Homo sapiens: one gene and its partners. The protein of the gene in region 2 interacts with the protein of the main gene of each other region in a pairwise test. Each region holds a gene or a part of one and is shown on either strand. Other genes may lie near its edges.

What was found. The genes of interacting proteins can lie anywhere in the genome.
Region 1: the proteins of FOSL2 (region 2) and LUZP4 interact in binary tests that used the Homo sapiens proteins (3 or more experiments, as listed by UniProt).
Region 3: the proteins of FOSL2 (region 2) and DNAJA3 interact in binary tests that used the Homo sapiens proteins (3 or more experiments, as listed by UniProt).

The regions. Positions count from the first base shown.
Region 1 is NC_000023.11:115,285,319-115,292,724, forward strand, and holds the start of LUZP4 (leucine zipper protein 4), read left to right. Parts: upstream 1-4,396; 5' UTR 4,397-4,441; coding exon 4,442-4,532; intron 4,533-7,406. UniProt on the Homo sapiens protein: Export adapter involved in mRNA nuclear export in cancer cells. Binds and enhances the RNA-binding activity of the nuclear RNA export factor NXF1. Can restore mRNA export function in cells compromised by loss of mRNA export adapters.
Region 2 is NC_000002.12:28,388,307-28,395,878, forward strand, and holds the start of FOSL2 (fos-related antigen 2), read left to right. Parts: upstream 1-4,551; 5' UTR 4,552-5,414; coding exon 5,415-5,516; intron 5,517-6,241; exon of another isoform or gene 6,242-6,366; intron 6,367-7,419; exon of another isoform or gene 7,420-7,470; intron 7,471-7,572.
Region 3 is NC_000016.10:4,428,856-4,435,877, reverse strand, and holds part of DNAJA3 (dnaJ homolog subfamily A member 3, mitochondrial), read right to left. Parts: intron 1,495-7,022; coding exon 1,361-1,494; intron 1-1,360. UniProt on the Homo sapiens protein: Modulates apoptotic signal transduction or effector structures within the mitochondrial matrix. Affect cytochrome C release from the mitochondria and caspase 3 activation, but not caspase 8 activation.

The DNA.
Region 1 (7,406 bases), on a different chromosome or scaffold from region 2:
ATTTCTCTTGATGCCAATAGAAAGAGTTCTTAGTTGAATGTGACAAATCCTAGCTGCTTTAAGCATAGAAGAAATTTATTGAAAGCCTGTTATGTTACATAGCTCAAGGAATAGCCATGACGTCTAAAGAATCAAGCTCAGGAAAAAGTGCAGGAACCAAGAGAGGTGAGAAATTTATAGTATTAGCTAAAATCACACATCAAAACGAATCTGAAGAGGCCACCACTGCCACACACTAGATACTGTGATTTGCAACACTGCCATTGCTGCCTCAAGAAACTGGCTTTTGCTGTTGCCACTGCTGTTGCCAGAATTCCACACTGTCCCTGCTGTTTTGTTTTGTTTTGTTTGAGACAGGATCTTGCTCTGTCTCTCAGATTGGAGTTGCAGTGGTGAGATAATGGCTCACTGCAGCCTCTGCCTCCCTGGCTCAAGCGATCCCCCCATCTCAGCCTCCTGAGTAGCTGGGACCACAGGTATGCACCACTACGCCTGGCTAATTTTTTAATTTTTTGTAGAGACGGGGTCTCACATTGTTGTCACTTTGTTGGCTGACCTCGAACTCCAGGGCTCAAGGGATCCTCCCGCCTCAACCTCTCAAAGTGCTGAGATTACAGGCATGAGCACCACGCCAAGACTGATGTTTTAAAAGGCTCACTTTGGTTTCTGCGTGGTTTTGCAAGTCTGTCCCTGGATGCTAGATTTGTGCTCATTCTTCGAATTTGAGAGAACCTATTTGAATGAAGGCAGAGAAGTTCAACTAAGAGAAGTGAAAGTTATGCAAGATCAAATTAATCAAATAACAAGCAATTTCAAGCAAAGCACGATGTCTTTCAAAGTTATCTCCTGGTCCCATCTCTACTATGGCTCAATTCTGAAACCTAGGGAGAAAGGAAATTCATTGATTATTTCCTTACTTCCTTTTGTTTATTTTTATTTATTAATTTAATTTATTTATTTGAAACAGAGTCTGGCTCTGTCGCCCAGGCTGGAGTGTGGTGGTGCAATCTCAGCTCACTGCAATCTCTGCCTCCTGTGTTCAAGCAATTCTCCTGCCTCAGCTTCCCAAGCAGCTGGGATTACAGGCGCACACCACCATGCACGGCTAATTTGTGTATTTTTGGTACAGTTGGGGTTTCACCATGTTGGCCAGGCTGGTCTGGAATTCCTGACCTCAAGTGATCTGCCTGTCTTGGCCTCCCAAAGTGCTGGGATTACAGGTGTTAGCCACTGGGCCGGCCTCCCTTTTCTTTATTTCTAATGTGTCTCTCTTTGCTAGCTCCTTTCTCATGACCTATAAGCATGTTTAATTTAATCTCTTCCATTAAAAAAAAACTACCCTCATGTCCTTTGTAGGGACATGGATGAAGCTGGAAACCATCATTCTCAGCAAACTATTGCAAGGACAGAAAACCAAACACTGCATGTTCTCACTCATAGGTGGGAATTGAACAATGAAAACACATGGACACAGGAAGGGGCACATCACACTATGGGGCCTGTTGTGGGGTGGGGGGAGGGGGGAGGGATAGCATTAGGAGATATACCTAATGTAAATGACGAGTTAATGGGTGTAGCACACCAACATGGCACATGTATACATATGTAACAAAGTTGCACGTTGTGCACATGTACCCTAAAACTTAAAGTATAATTAAAAAAAAACCACCCTATACTACCTTGTGTAAAGGTAGTAGTTACAAGCGTGATTTTTAGAGCTGAACTGCATGGGTTTGAAGTAATTGCAACATTTACCAGCTCTGTGTCCTTGGGCAATTTTTTAAATGTCTTTGTGCCTTCTTTTCCTTGCTGGTAAAAGGAGATAATATTATTTCTCATGGGGTTATTGTGAAGATTAAATTATTGAATATTTGTAAAGCTCTCAGAACAATGCCGGGCAGATAGTAAATGCTTTATGTGTTTGTTAAATAAAAATTAGTTGTTTATCAGTTTATAGCCTGCTAGAACTCTGCTGAAGGTAAAAACCGGATCTCATAATTACTAAATTTAATGAATTAATCAGTTCTTAGCTTATTTGACTTTCTATCAACCCTTGACAAGATGGACCCGTCGGTTCCTCCTGGAGTTCTCCCTTAATAAATGAATACCTCTTTCCTGGTTCTACCCATATCTCTCTGATATTTTCTACTCAATGTTCTTTTTAATTTTCTTGGGGTTCTATCTTTGATCCTCTTTCATTCTCACTTCATACCTGACAGAAAAATAAATCTGACAGAAAAAAAGGCCCAAACCATTAGCATAATATATTATAAAAGTCACTCCATGATCTAATATCTGTTGATCTCTTTAGACTCATCTCTCAGTACCCACCACATGGAATGAATAGAACTTTCCACAGTGTGTTAGTGGTGCTGCTTCCTCTGCCAAGAAATACCATTCCCACCCCTACAATTATTCCCTAATTTCTCAGGATTTAAATAATTTTTTCTTGATTCCTTGGGTGAATTTTCTCCTTTGAATCCCAAATACATTTTGTACATACCTGTATCCTCAGAACCTAACACAGCAGGAGCTCAGTATTTGTTGACAGACTAAATTACAGCACCTAAATTAATATTTTGCATGCATTTATTGTCTTCAGGCAATTGTATATGCATGGAGAAACAGATTTATTTATTAATCTTTAGGTCCCAGGTGCGAAGCATTTACTTAAATACAATAAATAGTTAAATAATTTACATTTTTCAAAATCTCTTCCGGCATTTATTTATGTTGTGGATTCTGTAATAGCTTGAACATATTTTTACCTTTGAAAATGTATTAATTTGATTTTTATTTCTACTGAAGAGCCAGTGACAAGATTTCTCTAATATTTTAAAGTAGCATTTGATTGAGCAGTATTAGGTGATAACAAGAACAATTACATTTTTCTTAAGAAATGTCATGGACACATCTTCAAGGTCATTGAACAGCATGTGGCAGGCCGGGTATGGTGGCTCATGCCTGTAATCCCAGCACTTTGGGAGGCCAAGGTGGGAGGATTGCTTGAGGCCAGGAGTTTGAGATCAGCTTGGCCAACATGGTGAGATCCCCATCTCTACAGCCCAAGAGGAGCCTGGGAGGTTAAGGCATGCCAACCTTGGCAACAGATCGAGGAAAGAAAGAAAAAAGAAAAGAAAGAAAAGAAAGAAAAAGAAAGGAAGGAAGGAAGGAAAAAAGGAAGGAAGGAAGCAAGGAAGCAAGGGAGAGAAGGGAAGGGAAGGGGAGGGGAGGGGAGGGGAGGGAAGGGAAGGGAATAGCCGGGTGTGGTGAGGGAGGAAGGCCGAGGCGGGTGGAAAGAGAGAAGTTAGGAAGAAGGAAGGAAGGGAGGGAGGGAGGGAGGAAGGAAGGAAGGAAAAGAAAGAGAGGAAGGAAGGAAGAAAGAGAGAGAGAAAGAAAGAAAAAAAGAAAGAAAGGGAAAAGAAAGAAAGAGAAAAAGAAAGAAAGAAAGAAAAGAAAGAGAAAGAAAAGAAAGAAAGGAAGAAAGGAAGGAAGGAAAAGAAATAACCAGGTGCGGTGAGGGAGGGATGCCAAGGCAGATGGAAAGAAAGAAGTTAGGAAGAAGAAAGAGAGGGTGGGAGGGAGGAAGGGAGGGAGGGAGGAAGGAAGGAAGGAAAGAAGGAAGGGAGGGACAGAGGGAGGGAGGGAAAGTGTGGGCGCTGTGGTATGAGGGTAGCACAGACGGGTAGATCACTTGAGCCCAGGAGACCAGCCTGGCCAACATGGTGAAACCCTATCTCTACTAAAAACACAAAAATTAGCCAGGCGTGGTGGCGCGCTCCTGTAATCTCAGCTACTTGGGAGGCTGACGTGGGAGAATCGCTTGAACCCCAGAGGCGGAGGTTGCAGTGAACGGAGTTGGCGCCACTTCACGCCAGCCTGGGTGACAAAGAGATACTGTGTCTCAAAAAAACAAAAAACAAAAAACAAAAACGAAAAGAAAGACAGAAAAGAAAGCGTGTGGCATTGCAAACCTGTGAATCCTCCCTAGATGTTAAATTTGTGCTCCCTCTTGGAATTTGAGAGAAGCAGAGCATCAGCCCATTAAGTCAAGATTATAAGGTTTTATTCGCCATGAATGTCAACAGCAAAGAGGAGAAATGGGTCCTAGGAACTGTGAAAGGCAAGGGCCGGAACACCACATACACTAGAAACTTGTAGCCAACTACATAGTGCTCTAGGTGGAGAGAATATTTTTAGAAAGGGGTATCGGGTGGGAGATGGGCGGGTCTTTCCTTTTTTTTTCTTCTAGCGAGCCAAGCTCCTGATAGGAGACTTGGTGAGGGGTAACGCCAAGCTCCACCCCTTGGGGCTTAGCAACACCGAAGGGAGAGGCTATGATTGGAGGATCAGGTTAGTCCACCACTCTGCTCCTCCTGCGCGGTGAGGGGGTGGTACACGCGCCCTACCTCGGAGTGTGTGGCGCCATGATGCAGGGAAGATGGCTTCGTTTCGGAAGCTAACGCTTTCTGAAAAAGTGCCGCCAAATCATCCCAGTCGGAAAAAGGTTAACTTCCTAGATATGTCTCTAGGTATGTAGATCTCGGATCCCAGTCTCCACTAGTTTGGGCTCACTGGTCTTGAGCGCAAGACCTCGGCATAGCGCTTACTAGAAGTGGCGTCGGGAGGAACACACCAGTTCGAGGAGAGGCTTCCCCTTCAGGGCATCTCCGCACCTGCCCCACCCTGACGAACCCTGGGACCACTTGGCCCCTATCCCTCCTCTCCTCTTTTTCTCCTCACCTCCAGCCCTCTCCTTTCAGGTGGGGAACTGAGGGAGGCTGACCAGAAGCGCGTGGGGATTAAGGATTGCTGAAAGGGGCAGGCGGAGAAAATAGACCGCTATTAACGTGTATTTTACTCTCCTAAGAATTGATACCTAACTACTGGCCTCCTTCAAACACATGGAGCCAAGTGCTCTTCTCAGTCCAAGCGGATGTCATAAATCACTAGATTCCAGGGCCCGGAGGAGCAAGCCTTAGGCTATTTTACTAGGGATCCCGGCGTGGTAGTGCTAGGAGTTGTTGGTGGGTTGGTGTATCTGCTTTGTTGGCTGGTGGTTATTCGAAGGGGTGGTTGGTCCATTTATTTGCTTGTTGGCTGGTGGTTATTCGCTCTGGATAGCCTTTCTTTGCTGGCGCTCTCTAGTCTCTAACCTGAGACCTCTACACGGAGAGTGGAACCTTAGAAAAAAGAACTCCTTTATCAAGGCCCCTAACCTCCTCCATTCGCACCAAACCCAGAAAAAGTGGATTTTACTTGGACCAGTTCCTCTGCTATTATCCATCTTAGAAATGGGGGAGGAGGGGAGGGAATAGACTTTCCAAGCCAGATAGGGAGTGAGCAGAGCTGAGTAGAGAGGATGGAAGCTGACTTTAGAAATGGAGAAGGGCATCAGAGCACGGAAGAAGGAAACTGTAGAAATGGGGGAAGGAGGACAAAACAGAAAAGGGCTACTTTAGTTAGGGGTGTGTGTGTGTGTGTGAAACGTGCTTGCTCTGTTTCTCAGGCAGGTGTGCAGTGGCATCATCTTGGCTCAGTGCAGCCTCCGCCCCCTGGGGTCAAGCGATCCTCCCACCTCAGTCGACAGAGTAGCTGGGACTACAGGCACGCGCCACCACACCTGTCTAGGTTTTTGTTTTTTTGTTTTGTTTTGTTTTGTTTTTTAGTAGAGCGAGGTTTCACCATGTTGCCCAGACTGGTCTCCTGGTCTCAAGTGATCCGCCCTTCTCGGCCTCCCAAAGTCCTGGGATTACAGGCATAAGCCACCGCCCCCGGCCTAGTTAGTTATTTTTGAGATAAGGTCAGGGACTGTTGTCTGGGTTGGAGTGTAGTGGCACGATCACGGCTCACTGTGGCCTCAAGCTCTCAGGCTCAATCAAGTGATCCTACCACCTCAGCCTCTCGAGTAGCTGGAACCACAGGTGCTCACTACCATGCCCACCTAATTTTTAAATTTTTGTAGAGATTGGGTCTCCTTATGTTGCCCAGGCTGGTCTCGAACTCCTGGCCTCAAGCAATCCTCCCGGCTCGGCCTCCCAAAATGATGGGATTGTGGGCCTGAGCCACTGCGCCTGGCCAAGGGCCACTTTAGAAATGAGAGGGGGAGAGGCAGAGCAGTGGGAGCTGAGCTTCAATGTGGAAGCGCAGGAGTGGAGCAAGGAGAAGCAGGAACAAGGAGGGTGGACCTCAGAAATTGATGGAGCAGTGGAAAGAGGGTTCACCTTAGAGATGAGGGTAGGGGAGCAGAGCAGGGAGGGCTGAACTTTAAAAGGGGCAGGATAAGTGGAGGGAGAGTGTACCATAGAAATGAAGAGGGTCAGCTGGGCTTGGTGGCTCATTCATGTAATCCCAGCACTTTGGGAGGTTGAGGTGGGTGGCTCACTTGAGGCCAGGAGTTCGAGACCAGCCTGGCCAACATGGTGAAACCCCATCTCTACTAAAAATACAAAGATTAGCTGGGCATGGTGTTGCGTGCCTGTAGTCCCAGCTATGCAGGAGGCTGAGGCAGGAGAATTGCTTGAACCTGGGAGATGGAGGCTGCAGTGAGTTGAGATCGCCCCACTGCACTCCAGCCTGGGTGCCAGAGTGAGACTTCATCTCAGAAAAAAAAAAAAGTAATGAAATGAAGAGGGGCGCCATGGCTCATGCCTGTAATCCCAGGAGGCAGAGGTCAGGCTGGTCTTGGAACTCCTGACCTCAAGTGATACACCCACCTCGGCCTCACACAGTGCTGCGATTACAGGCGTGGGCCACCTCACCCGGCCTAAACTTTCTTTATAGTGTCCTTTGAAGTCCCGAAGTTTCAGAATTTGATAAAATACAATTTATCTGTTTTTTGTTGTTGTTCATGCTTTGGTGTCAAATCTAGAAGATCATGAAGATCATACCCTTGTTTCCTTCTGAGAGTTTTCTAGTTTTAACTCTTAAATTTACATCTGTGATCCATTTTGAGTTAATTCTTGTATATGGGGTGAGTTAAGAGCCAACTTCATTCTGTTGCATTTTGATGTCTAATTGTTCCAACACTACTTGTTAAAAAGACTAATTTTCCTCCATTGAAAGCTCTTCTTGGTGGAATTGCTTTCTTAATTTCGTTTTTGGATAGTTCATTGCTGGTATATGTACATAGAATTAATTTTTGCATATAGATCTTGTATCCTGCAGCCTTGCTGAGTGTGTTCATTAGTGCTAATCTCCGTGTGTGTGTGTGTATCTTTAGGAATTTCTGCATACAAGATCATGATATCTGAGAACAGAGATTTACTTTTTTCTAATCTGCTTGCCTTTCATTCTTTTTCTTGACTAATTGCTCTGGATGGAATTTCTAGCAAAATGTTAATTAGATGCGGTGAGATTGGACATCCTTGACTTGTTTCTGATCTTAGGGAGAAAAGCTTTCAGTT
Region 2 (7,572 bases):
CCTCCCTCCCTTTCAGCAGGCTATCTCTGGCAGTGGCTCCTTCCCTCTACCTGCTGGATGGCCCCTCTTTCATGGTCCCAAGCTCACTAGGCTCCAATAACATGATTGCCTCCTCTTTTCAACCCTAGGGATGGTCATCATTTCCTGCTGTTACTAGGCTCTAGGTGCCTCAAGTTCCCTCTTAACTCTGCCCATACCTCTATAAGGAATTTCTCCATTAAAGCATCATCCTTTGAACCATCTGGGTTAAAGTCTGTTTCCTGATGGACCCATGACTGATTCACAGGTCTTTGGACAAAAACGGCAACACTTGCATATTCAATAGTCATCGATTATAAGATACATCTGGCTTTCAGAAATGTTACAATATCATCAAAAAGTATGGCTTACTATAAAGAAATGATGGCAGGTTCATTCAGGCATGATGGATATAGAGGACAGTGTATCATTAAGAGATGTAAGTTGGGCACAGTGGCTCATGCCTGTAAACCCAGCAATTTGGGAGGCCAAGGCGGGCTGATCACTTGAGGCCAGGAGTTTGAGACCAGCCTGGCCAACACGGTGAAACTCCATCTCTACAAAAAACACAAAAATTAGCCGGGTGCAGTGACGTGTGCCTGTAATCCCAGCTACTTGGGAGGCTAAGGCAGGAGAATCACTTGAACTTGGGAGGCAGAGGTTGCAGTGGGCCGAGATCACGACACTGCACTCCAGCCTGGGAGACAGAGGAAGACACTGTCTCCAAAAAAAAAAAAAAAAAAAAAAAAAAAAAAAAAAAAAAAAAGATGGAGTTTGCTCCTAAACTTACAAGGTTGGAAGCATGGCAAACAGCAAAGCGCTGGGTTTAAAGTCAGGTGAGATGGCTTTGAACTCAGGCTCTGACACTTACAGCTGGAAAATTTTGAGTAGGCTGCTGTGACACTCTGCACCTCGGCCTCCTTTCTGGCAATCCAGAGTCACTCTGCTGTCTATATCCCTTTCAGAGATGTCATGTGTAAGGACAAATGAGGCGATGTGTGTGAAAGGGCTTCATGTATCCGGTGCTGAGATGTGTGGGCCAGCACAGCTCTGAGGGGGCAGCTATTCTGGGATTCCTCATCTCTCAGGGGCCAAACACTGGCCAGGATGGACAAACAAGGAGACCGGCAAAAGTAAGGCAAGAGAGGTCTCAGAGACCCAGAGAGGCAATGAGAAGACAGCTCACCTACCCTTTTCTTCCCAGCTCATCTACCCTTTTCTTCCCACCCCAGCTTCCCTCTTCCCCTTCCCTTCCCTCACTTGACATGGCCTCTTCTCTAAGCTGAGGGATGCCGCTGAGGCTATTTGTTCAGTGGAGAATTAAGGCGCACCTCTAAGTGTAGGATAAAGTCATGCACCAGATAAAGACCATGCCTTTCAAGACCAGTAAGAGAGAGACAAAGACATTCCAACAGGAGGCAGGTCATGCCATGTCCTGGGGAAAAAGAAGAGCCTGGTGTCGGAGAATCTCAGCTGCACTCCTAACAGATCACTAACTCACTAACCAGTTCCCCTGGACAAGTTATTCAATCTCACTGTCTTCTTCTGCAACCAGGGAATAATACCCACCTCCAGCGTTTGCTGTGAGAATTTCACAGAACAAGCCCTGTATTCAGCATGGTGCCTGGCTCTGATTTTAGCACTCAATAAAGGGTCACCTCTATTTTTAGCATTCCAGGGAGCCAGAGGACCCTTTCTAACTGGATGATTCTGGAATGATTTCCCAAGGAGAGGGCACTTGGAGACTGAATTCTCTGTATGGCAGGCACAGTTCGCTGAGGCACTCGCTCAACCGGGGGAGGTCAGTCCCGCAGCAGCACCAGGGCACAGCGCTGTGTGTCCGGCGCTGGGGGGACTGAAAGGGGGTGAGCGGGCTGCGGAACGCAAGCCTCCCGGCGGGCAGAGGGAGCCAGCACGAGTTCTGGAGTAGGAGAGGGCCGGGATCAAAGCGCTCTGAGGCAGGCCAGGGCGCACCAAAGGGAGGCTAGTGAATTGCATCAGCACAGATTCCGTGATGCTCTGCAGACGTCTCCAGGCTGCTGGGCTTTACGGGAACCCACAAGAAAGGAAAGGACCGGGGAGCTGGCAGGGCGAGGGCGGGCGAGGGCGCGAGGGTGCGCTCGCCCGCGCGCTCCCGGCGGCGCCTGGCCGGGGCTGGGCGCGCCCGGGACTGCGGAGGCCGCGGAGGAAGCTCCCGCTCCCCTTCCCCCGCCTCTTTCCCCCCGCGTTACTGGAAGGACTGTGTGGGAGAGACCCAGAAGCACCCGGATTTTCGACCGCCAGGTGGGGGAGGGCGGGGCAGCCTCTACTGCTCAAAGGAAAACCAAAAGTGCGTCTGTTCGCGCCGCTCCGACACGCGGTTGCTACTGGGAGGGCTCAGGCAGGGCGCTTTGGCCGCGCCTCCCTTTGCAGCCCCCAAGACTTGGCTAGGGCGGCCTGAGGCCCGCGTGGCGCGGGGAGGGGCTGAGAACCGAGTGGGAAAATGTCACGATTTCTTCTGTGCCCCTCCCGTCCCTACCCCCACCCCCAGTTTTCTGAGTTTTGCTGCTGCCGCTGGGGAAGGACTGATTCGTTTTGCGTCAAAGGACTGCATTTACTCAGTCCTGCTGGGAGAGGCGCGTAAACACCCAGGCAAGCCAGGACGCAGGGATGGGGAGGGGGAAGAAAAAAGCAAAGCACCCACGGCCGGCGCGCGCGTCCGCCTGCCCCACACCCCTCTCCTGGGCCTGCGGAGTTGGGGACTCTGTCCAGCGGGCAGCAGCGGAGGTGCGAGGAGTCTGGCTGGCCTCGCCTCGTCGCGCACGCGCGCGCGTCCTTGGGGATAGCGTTCAGGACAGAATGTGTTTTATAGCTGTAAACAATGACCCCGAGTATTGTTTGGGATTACCGTATCTTGGGGCCCTTGGGGCGGCCAGATGCCGCCAGCCGTCCCGGAAATGCCAGCGCTTTATATAGAGCCCCAGGAAAGCTTCGCGTTCCCGGCTCTATTTTTCTCTGCTACCAACACCCCCACTTTGCAGATAAGGAAACTGAGGACAGAAGTTGTGTGACGGTGCACAGCGAGTTGTCAGCAATGGACTCTCAACACCTCTTAACATTGGGTCCTCATAAGGACCCTGTGGGGTACAGATGGCTGGCGCTACTTAAGAATTGGGTAAACTGAGGCTAACACAGACCCTGGACCAAAACCTAAGTTCCCTGACTTCCGCTACAGTACTTCTCCATTCACACACACCATCATCTCAGCGGAAGGATTGGAGCTCCAGAGCAGAGAAGGGCCTAAGGTCATGTCTCCAAACTCCTTCACTTTATAGGAGGAAACTGAGGCCCAGAGAGGTTAAGGAATTCGTCCAAGATCTCACAGCTCGTAAATAGCGTAGCCGGGCGTTCCTGCTCTAAGGTCTGTGCTCTGTACCCTGCGCCGCGCCCCTCCCAGCCCCGCCCAGCGAGGGAGGAGGACCCAAATGTCCGGCAACCCGCGCCCTGAACTTCGCTCCAAAACAGCTGAAGACGACAACGTTGGGGCACACCCTCTCGCTGGCTTTTTTTTTTTTTTTTTAATTCGTAACAGTCTGGAGTTTGCTTATAAACGCCCGATTACTCTTATTAGATGCGTCCTAATTGCCCGGCGTATAGGGCGGCCGGAATGTCTTGACTGGTTAATTTCATCTTCAAGGCTACTCCTAACGAATTAACTGTAGGACCGAAAACATGAAAAACAAAAAACAAAAAGGGAACCGGTAGGCAGACCGCCACGGAGGGAAAAATAGGCAGGCCAGCCCCGCCCGGCGCCGTGCCCCGCCAACACCCGGCCGCAGGGCGGCGCGGGCACCCTGCGCGCCCGGGGCGCCCGCTGCACTCGGCGGCGCCGCGGAGGGCGCCTACGACCGCGCGCAGCCGCGCCCTCCCTGCGAGCGGCTCTGCGCGCCCGGCTCCCGGCCTCCCGGTGGCGCCGCACCGAACCGCCCGTCTCGCCGTCAGGGCTGTGATTATTTTCTAAAATCCGGAGGCGAGACCCGCGCGGCCGCTCTCGGGGCCCCGCCCCGAGCCCCTTCCCAGGGCGGGGGAGAGGCCGCAGCGCACTCGGGAGCGGGCGAGGGAATCCCTCTCCCTCCACGTCACCCGAAAGCGAGGAAACCCGCACTCGCGTCCTCTAACGCAAATGACCATCTTTGGCAACGTGCGCCAATGGAACAGACCAAGGGCGCTGGGCCCGGGGGGTGAGCGGGGGACTGGGGAGGGCCGGGGCTGCCTCGGCGCCTCCGAACCGTGCGTGGCGCCCGCTCCCGCCCGTGCCACCGCCTGGCTTCCTCGCGCGGGGTGCGCGGTTGGCGTCAGCGCGGCCGGGAGCCGGGGCTGGGAGGGGAGAGCTGCGCCCGCCTCCTCCCCTCCCGCGCCTCTTCCTCCTCCGCGGCCTCCTCCCCCCGCCTCCTCGTGCGCTCCTCCCTGCAAGGTGGAGTCTGGGGTTGACGTGAGTGAATCCACATGGTACAGGGCTGGAGAATAAAGAGTGTGAGTTGAACTCGTGCCATTGTAGTGACTCATCTCGGGCAGAGCGCTAGGGCTCCGAGCGAACCAGCGAGCGAGCGAACGAGCGGCGCTCGGCGGGGACAGAAAGAGGGAGAGAGAGAGAGAGAGAGAGGGAGAGGCGCGGCCGGGCGAGGCGGGCCCGTCCGGGAGCGGGCTCCGGGGAAGGGGTGCGGGTCTGGGCGCCGGAGCGGGGAGCGGGGCCGCGTCCCTCTCAGCGCCAGCTCTACTTGAGCCCCACGAGCCGCTGTCCCCCTGGCGCGCTCGGGGCCGCGGGACGGGCGCACGCCGCCTTCTCCTAGTCAAGTATCCGAGCCGCCCCGAAACTCGGGCGGCGAGTCGGCCACGGGAAGTTTATTCTCCGGCTCCTTTTCTAAAAGGAAGAAACAGAAGTTTCTCCCAGCGGACAGCTTTTCTTTCCGCCTTTTTGGCCCTGTCTGAAATCGGGGGTCCCCAGGGCTGGCAGGCCAGGCTCGCTGGGCTCCTAATCTTTTTTTTAATTTCCAATTTTTGATTGGGCCGTGGGTCCCCGCTGAGCTCCGGCTGCGCGCGGGGGCGGGAGGGCGCGCGCAGGGGAGGGACCGAGAGACGCGCCGACTTTTTAGAGGGAGGGATCGGGTGGACAACTGGTCCCGCGGCGCTCGCAGAGCCGGAAAGAAGTGCTGTAAGGGACGCTCGGGGGACGCTGTTCCTGAGGTGTCGCCGCCTCCCTGTCCTCGCCCTCCGCGGTGGGGGAGAAACCCAGGAGCGAAGCCCAGAGCCCGCGGCGCGGCCGGCGGACGAACGAGCGCGCAGCAGCCGGTGCGCGGCCGCGGCGAGGGCGGGGGAAGAAAAACACCCTGTTTCCTCTCCGGCCCCCACCGCGGATCATGTACCAGGATTATCCCGGGAACTTTGACACCTCGTCCCGGGGCAGCAGCGGCTCTCCTGCGCACGCCGAGTCCTACTCCAGCGGCGGCGGCGGCCAGCAGGTAGGTGCGGGCCCCGGTGCACCTGGCGGCGCGGGCGGACCCCTGCCCTCTTCTCGCCGCCACTGCCTCTTTTGCTTTCTTTTCTTTTTCTTGGCGAGAAAATACCTACGGGCCACCGTTGTAAGTTCTGGATTTTCGTCCTCCCCTTCCCCCCCACCCCCTTTTAAACTAGGGGATTGGAGAGTGGGCTTGAAGAGACAACATGCCCTTTTCCTCTCACGTTATATTTTACCCAGATAGACTCCTGGAATTGTAGGCCCCCTACCAGGAGCCTGTTACCTCCTTCCAAGAACTACTCCCCCTCCCCAGTGTCTGCCCCCCCCCCCCCACCCCTGCCCCGCGTCTTCTCTCTGGGTGGTGGACAGACAAGAAAATCTTTGCACCCACTGGCACCTCTCGACATCCTGGGACCCTATTCCTTCAGGAAAGCCCTCTCTCTCTCCTCCCCGTTCTCCATCAGTCATAACTCCTTTCTGAAAGGGGTTGGGGACCCAGAAACATGGTTGGACTCCTTCAAGTAATCTGGAGCGAGGGCGAGGGCTGCCGCTCTGGGAATCAGGTGCGAAGGTCAGGAAGGAAGAAGCCAGCCTTGGTTGGCTCATGCCGCCTGTGTGCCCCCTGCCTGCCTGCCTGCCCCCCCGCCGACCCGTCTTCTGTAAGGATCACGGACAGGAGGCTGCACTGCCCCCCAGGAACGAAGGAGCACCTTGAGGGTCTGGGGGTACCTGGAGCAAGGAGACCGGCAGAGGGAAGAGGGGGTCGGGTGGGGGAAGAGACATCACGCAGGCTCCTGGGTGGTTCTGGAAGCAGAAAACAACTTGTTTCTAAAGCAGCCGGACTGGTTTGCACTGGAGGGATTGTGCGTGTGATCTCTGTGTTTATAAATACCAGGAAGGTGCTGTTGGCGGGGGGGTGCTGATGGCGTGTCTGCCCTCTGCTGCAGCTCCCCCACCCGCTCTGTCTCGAGAGAGAGCTGGGTTAACGCAGGCCCAATACAACATGAAGCCCACCGTGGTCAGCATCTGTGGAGTCTAGCATAGTTGGCTGCAGCAAGGGATGCTCATGCTCCATAAGGCGGTGGCCTTGGCCTCTAGAAGGGGCTAGGGTGGGCTTCCAGGGAGGGGTGGACTCAGCTGGAAAGAATTTTGGAACGTGGCTCTCTTTTGGATCTGATGGGGGGGTCCCTTGTTCCAAAGTGATTCCCTATACCTGGTGAGTCCCCAAAATGGCTTTTCTGTCTTCCCTCTGCCTCCCATGGTGCTCCTATAAGCACCCACAGTAGAGACAGCCTAGTCTGTTCATTGAGGGTGCAGTCAATGCACCCTTCGTAATGAGCACCAAGGTGATGAGTTTAAAATCCGAAAAGTTGTTGATTATGTTTGCTTCCCAGCCCCGCTAGTGGTTTGTGTTGAATGTAAACATAATGAGGGAATAGGTTGAAGTCTGTACCCACTCCCTCCGTCTCCCGTTCGACAAACCCCAAACGCCTGTCTGTCTCCTCCTCCCTGAAATCAGGAAGGGATCTTTTGATTTCTTCTCTGTTCTTTTCCCTAATGTGTCTTTAGCAGTGATCATTGGAGTATTACAATCTCACTGCCTGGTTTAGCATAGACCCTGGGGCCTGGAGGGAAGTCAGACCGGACATCAGTGCCCCAACTGAATAATCTGTGTCACTAGGGCTTTGAGCCCAGGATGTGAGCGGAGGCAATTCCCGGTTTTGGAAGAAAATCAGACAGGAAACCAGTGCTAGGAAGAAGGAAGAGAACTCAGTCCAGCAGAGTGTAATAGGGCCTCATTACCGAAGCAAAAAGCAGCTGTTGGCTAATTCCTAGCATGCTGTAACACATGAGTATTTTGCAATTAGCAATAACCAGTGCACGGGGTTTCGCATAGACGCCTGCCCATTCGGCCCGGCAGTGTGTGAGGCGCCTTTCAAACCGGAGGGATTGGCAAGGTAATGCCACTTGAGACAAGTTTCTTGGCCTGTCCGCTCCTTGGTGTGGTGGTGGTTGGGTGGGGGACGAGGAGGAACTGGTGGATTTTTCTGTCATTGCTC
Region 3 (7,022 bases), on a different chromosome or scaffold from region 2:
AAACATCCAGTTACCATATGACTCAGCAACTATACTCCTAAATATCCAAGAGAACTGAAAACATGTCTACACAAAAACTTACATATGAATGTCTATATAGCAGCACTGTTCATGATAGCAAAAAGTGGAAAATATCCAAATGTCCATCAAACGATGAATAAACAAAATGTGATTAATCCATGCAACAGATTATTTGACCATAAAAAGGGATGAAGTATTGACACAAACTATAACACAGATGAACCCTGAAAACATTATGTGAATGAAAGAAGCCAAGACACACAAAAGGATACATATTGTATGATTCCCTGTATATGAATATTGAGAATAGGCAAATCCAAAGAGGCAGGACGCAGATTAGCAGCTGCTAGGGACCGGGGAGAGAGGACAATGGAAGGGGAGTGCTAATGAATACAGAGTTTCTTTTCGAGGTAATGAAAATGTCCTAAAGTTGACTGTGGTGACAGGTGCACAACTCCAGTGAACTGTGCACTTATAAAAAGCTGTCAATCCTACAATGGTGCCTCCAATATTGATTTTATTTTGTTGGTCAGAGCAAACCAAGGGTCTAGGAACCAGTGGTGTAGACATCTCGTATACAACTTTACTCAGCTACCCTAACTACCCTAATAGACCCTGGGATACAATGGGAATTTCACATTTTCCAGGTTAAGAAAGGGCCAGGCGCGGTGGCTCACGCCTGTAATCCCAGCACTTTGGGAGGCTGAGGCAGGTGGATCACCTGAGGTCAGGAGTTTAAGACCAGCCTGACCAACAAAGTGAAACCGCGTCTCTACTAAAAATACAAAAAAAATTAGCCGGGTGTGGTGGCAGGTGCCTATAGTCCCAGCTACTTGGGAGGCGGACACAGGAGAACTGCTTGAACCCAGGAGGCAGAGGTTGCAGTGAGCCAAGATTGCGCCACTGCACTCCAGCCTCAGCAATGGAGTGAGACTCCATCTCAAAAAAAAAAAAAAAAAAAAAAAAAAAAGAAAGGAAAGGAAGTAATTCTAAACCTCTAAACTTTTATCTGGATGCAAAAAATAACTACCTAAAACTTAGACTAGCATATCTACTGATTCAGAAAATACAGATTAAATTTAATTATGAAAACAGCTCTAGAAAAAAAAACTTCTTAAAATCTCTGGTTTGGACTCACCTCTTTTTTCTGAAGCACCAACCTCTACAGCATTGTGCATCGAAAAACAGTCTAGCAAAGTCCAGCTTTATCACACCCTTCTATACTATCAGCTCATGAGACCTATTCATATGGGCACATACGCTGTACTGATCAGGATCACATGGGATCAACAACATTCCTACTACAATTTGGTCACCAAAACCTGACTTCCATACAGACCTGATAATAGGCTTTCTTGATCTCTTTCTGGCTGGCATTTCGAGGCACTCCTAATATCTGATAATAATCTTCTTTGGCCAAAGGGGCACTCGTGTGGAAGGAGGCAGTACAAATGAAAGGGTTATGTTTTGTTCCTAAAAAGGAAAAAACAAAGAAAATCACTCTGGGAATGTTCTCAACAAAAGAAAACTGTGAGTACATGACCCACCAGGCTATATCTGTGAAGGAACAAACAAACTGATAAGGTTTGGCTGTGTCCCCACCCAGATCTCAACTAGAATTTTAGTTCCCATAATCCCCACGTGTCATGGGAGGGACCTGATGGGAGGTAACTGAATCACAGGAGCGGTTACCTCCATGCTGGTCTCGCGATAGTAAGTTCTCATGAGATCTGATAGTTTTATGAGGGGCTCACCCTTTTGCTCATTCTTCCTGCTGCCATGTTAAGAAGGATGTGTTTGCTTCCCCTTCCGCCACGATCGCTGAGGCCTCCCCAGCCGTGCTGAACTGTGAGTTAAATAAACCTCTTTCCTTTAAAATTTACCCAGTCTTAGGTATGTCTTTATTAGCTGCATGAGAACAGACTAATACACAGGCTACAGCTTTAGGGCTGTTCCCTAATGCACTTCAATAATGGCTAAGGAAGCCACAGTATTCAATTAATATTAAACTATGTCAGAGTATTGGATGAGGCTGATTCTCCTCGCTTATACTACTGGAGTGGTCTCAGTAAACCACTAAAGGAATAATACTCCTGACTGGGAGATGATTAAAAAGGGATTCAGCTCCCCCCTCTTATGCCACATGAGCACTTACCATTTGCTAGGTATTTTCATATTTTCATATTTTTCTGTCACATTTAATGCTTAACAACTCCCCACATTCTTTTCCCTCTATCTTGCAGCCTTGGGTATCTACTTAAGGAGCAGTTCTCAAGACTGCGCTCCCTGGACCAACAGCATCATTAGACTGATGAAAACACAGATGTTCAAGCCCTACTCCAGACATTCACCAGAAACTCAGGAGGTCTCCACCCACTAGATGCCAGTAGAGAACTCCCCGTCTCCAGGCATTGCCAAATGTCCCCTGGGAAGTAAAAGTGTCCCCTGCTGAGAACCAATGACAAATCAATCTAAGAAGGTCGGGGAAGAACTTCTAGGCATCAGCTGTTAAGCTGCAGAAACTGGCTAAGCTGCCCAGGAAAGCATTTGCCACTTTCAGTGGAAAACAAATGGCGGTTACTAACTAGGATGACTTTGTACTTTGGATCTGGATTCACAGCACCTTTTTTAATAGCAAGACACCAACTGCTTAAGAAACAAGGATGTTTTAGTTCATCCACTTAACAGATAGGAAGAGCAGGTTTTTTGTTTTTTGAGATGGAGTCTCGCTCTGTCGCCCAGGCTGGAGTGCAGTGGCGCCATCCTGGCTCACTGCAAGCTCCACTTCCCGGGTTCACGCCATTCTCCTGCCTCAGCCTCCCAAGTAGCTGGGACTACGGGCGCCTGCCACCACACTCGGCTAATTTTTTCATATTTTTAGTAGAGACGGGGTTTCGCCGTGTTAGCCAGGATGGTCTCGATCTCCTGACCTCATGATCCGCCTGCCTCGACCTCCCAAAGTGCTGGGATTACCGGCGTGAGCCACCGTGCCCGGCAGGCTTTTTGTTTCTTTGTTTTTTGAGACGGAGTTTCGCTCTTCTTGCCCAGACTGGCGTGCAGTGGTGCGATTTTGGCTCACTGCAACCTCCGCCTGCTGGGTTCAAGCGACTCTCCTGCCTCAGCCTCCCAAGTAACTGGGACTACAGGCGTGTGCCACCACGCCCAGACTGGAGGTGTTTTAATAGATGAAATCTGTTTAAAAAGTGAATAAGCCGGGCCGGGTATGGTGGCTCCTGCCTGTAATCCCAGCACTTTGGGAGGCCAAGGCGGGCGGATCACCTGAGGTCAGGAGTTAGAGACCAGCCTGACCAACATGGAGAAACCCCATCTCTACTAAAAATACAAAATTAGCCGGATGTGGTGGTACATGCCTGTAATCCCAGCTAGTAAGGAGGCTGAAGCAAGAGAATCGCTTGAACCTGGGGGGCAGAGGTTGCAGTGAGCCAAGATCGCGCCATTGCACTCCAGCCTGGGCAACAGGAGTGAAACTCCATCACAGAAAAAAAAAAGAAAAAAAAAAAGAAAGAAAAATAAGCCTGGGCACAGTGGCTCTCGCCTGTAATCCCAGCACTTTGGGAACCTGAGGCGTGAGGATCGCTTGAGCCCAGGAGTTCGAAACCAGCCTGGGCAACACAGAGACCCTGTCTCTATTAAAAATAAATAAATAAATGGATCAAAGACTTGAACTTATATGACATACTAGATGTTTGTAAATAAACTTATGACATGGAAAAAAAAGAGAGAGAGACAGAAATAGGCTAAAGAGGACTTTGAATCCATACAGATTTATACCTATAACTAAACTAGATGGCAGTGGTGGTAGTGGTGGTTAGAGATGATAACGATTAATGGGGCCTAGGAATAGGAAGGGCCTTAGAGCTATGCTAAGGAGTCTGGATTTTATCCTAAGAGCAATAGGGAGCCACTGCAAATGTTAAACAAAGAACCCATTAGGTTTGCATGAGAAACAACTCTAGGCCAGGCAAGGTGGCTCACGCCTATTGTAATCCCAGCACTTTGGGAGGCCGAGGCGGGTGGATCACTTGAGGTCAGGAGTTCGAGACCAAGCTGGCCAACATGGTGAAATCTTGTCTCTACTAAAAATACAAAAATTAGCCGGTCATGGTGGTGCACGCCTGTAATCCCAGCTACTTGGGAGGCTGAGGCATGAGAATTGTTTGAACCTGGGAGGCTGAGGTTGCAGTGAGCCAAGATCGCGCCATTGCACTCCAGCCTGGGCGACAGAGCAAGACTCCACCTGAAAAAAAAAAAAGAGAAACAACTCTAGGAAGCCTGGGAGACTACTCGAAGTTAATCAGCACAAAACACAACCAGAGGTTGGTTGAGCACATCCAAGTAGGAGGCCAGGTAAAGGATGATCAGACAGGAGAATGGATAGGAATGGTCAGGATACTTAAAATTAGAAATAGGAAATAAATCCGTGTGTTTGGCACACCCAATATCCTCGGGATACAAAAAGCACACTGGAAGTAGTAGGGGTCAGGAGACCACTTTGTGTTTCTTCAGTCAGACTTGAGAAAACACTAGACCTGACTTATTATTGAACTTGTACTCAACCCTCTTTTTATTTCGGAGTAAGGGGTTGCCCGGCCCAGTCCAGCCTCTCTCTCACCACTCATTCCAATGCCACAAGGCGGAGGCTGGTAGTGACCTGTGGCAGCTGTGGCTTCAACATTACGGGCAGAGAACACGGACAGGAGTTAGTACAGAGATAGTAACGCACAAAACTGCATGTGGATAAAGACAAATCACGTTTAATTACAAGACTGATGGCTTTGTTTTTTCTTTTTTTGAGACAGAGTCTCACTCTGTCACCCAGGCTGGAGTGCAGTGGTGTGATCTCGGTTCACTGCAACCTCCATCTCCCAGGTTCGAGCGATTCTTCTGCTTTAGCCTCTCAAGTAGCCAGGACTATAGGCGCACACCACCACACCTGGCTAATTTTTGTATTTTTAGTAGGTAAGAAGTTTCACCATGTTGGCCAGGCTGGTCTCGAACTCCTGACCTCAAGTGATCCGCCGGCCTCATCCTACCAAAGTGCTGGGGTTACAGGCATGAGCCACCATCCCCAGTCTGATGACTTTTGACATTATCCATAGGGCATCAATGATTAACAATAATTAGATTTCATTTAATAGACTATTTATTTTATCACATATGACCAGTAAATGTCCTGTCCTTTTTAGAACAACCCAGAATAAAATAAGCCTCCAAGTCGTTCTAAGAATGGCCAACCCACTGTCCAACAACTGCTTTCTTTTTTTTTTTTTTTGACAGGGAGTTTGGCTCTTGTTGCCCAGGCTGGAGGGCAGTGGCGCGATCTCGGCTCACTGCAACCTCTGCCTCCTGGGTTCAAGCGATTCTCCTGTCTCAGCCTCCCGAGTAGCTGGGATTACAGGAACCCGCCACCACGCCTGACCAACTTTTTCTATTTTTAGTAGAGACAAGCTTTGGCCATCTTGGCCAGGCTGGTCTCAAACTCCTGACCTCAGGCGATCAACCCACCTCCCAAAGTAATGGGATTGCAGGCATGAGCCACCATACCTGGCCACCAACAACTGCTTTCTTTCTGCTTGGAAGAAAAGTCACATCTAAAATGTTGTTATGTCATCTTACTACTAGATTTGAGACAAGATCACAGACTAGTGTTTGGACGCTGAGTTAATGACCTTTTCAAAATTTTTTTTTTTAAGAGACAGGGGTCTCATTATGTTGCCTAGGCCAAATTCAAATTCCTGGACTCCAGCAATCCTCCCACCTCAACCTCCTGAGTAGCTAGGACTATAGAGGCTCGCCACCACATGGCTTCTCAGTTGATGACTTTATTAATTTTTTGGTAGAGAAAGAGTCATACTCTGTTGCCCAGGCTGGAGTGCAGTGGCATCATCATGGCTCACTGCAGCCTCAACCTTCTGGGCTCAAGTGAAACTCCCACCTCAGCCTCCCAAGCAGCTGGGAGTACAGGCAGTTGCCACCATAGTTGGCTAATTTTTTTTTTTTTGAGACACAGTTTCGCTCTTGTTGATCAGGCTGGAGTGCAATGGCGCTAACTCGGCTCACGGCAACCTCCGACTTTCACGTTCAAGCAATTCTCCTGCCCCAGCCTCCCGAGTACCCGGGTTTACAGGCATGCGCCACCAGGCCTGGCTAATTTTGTATTTTTTGTAGAGACGGGGTTTCTCCATGTTGATCAGGCTGGTCTCAAACTCCTGACTTCAGGTGATCCGCCCGCATAGGCCTCCCAAAGTGCTGGGATTACAGGCGTGAGCCACCATGTCCGGCCACAGTCAGCTAATTTTTAAAAATCTTTTTGTAGGCCGGGCGCGGTGACTCACACCTGTAATCCCAGCACTTTAGGAGGCTGAGGTGGACAGATCATGGGTAAAGAGATCGAGACCATCCTGGCCAATATGGTGAAATCCAGTATCTGCTAAAAATACAAAAATTAACTGGGAGTGGTGGCACGTGCCTGTAGTCCCAGCTACTCAGGAGACTGAGGCAAGAGGATCACTTGAACCCAGGAAGCGGAGGATGCGGTGAGCCGAGATCACGGTGAGTCAAGATCATGGTGAGCCGAGATCGCACCACTGCACTCCAGCCTGGCTACAGAGCAAGACTCCGTCTCAAACAAACAAACAAAAAAAATCTTGGCCGGGCGCGGTGGCTCACACCTGTAATCCCAGCACTTTGGGAGGCGGAGGCGGGTGGATCACGAGGTCAGGAGATCGAGACGTCCTGGCTAACACAGTGAAACTCCATCTCTACTAAAAATACAAAAAATTAGCTGGGCGCGGTTGCAGGTGCCTGTAGTCCCAGCTACTCGGGAGGCTGAGGCAGGAGAATGGCCTGAACCCGGGAGGCGGAGTTTGCAGTGAGCCGAGATCGTGCCACTGCACTCCAGCCTGGGCGACAGAGTGAGACTCCGTCTCAAAAAAAAAAAAAAAAAAAAAAAATCTTTTTGTAGAGATGGGATCTGCCTA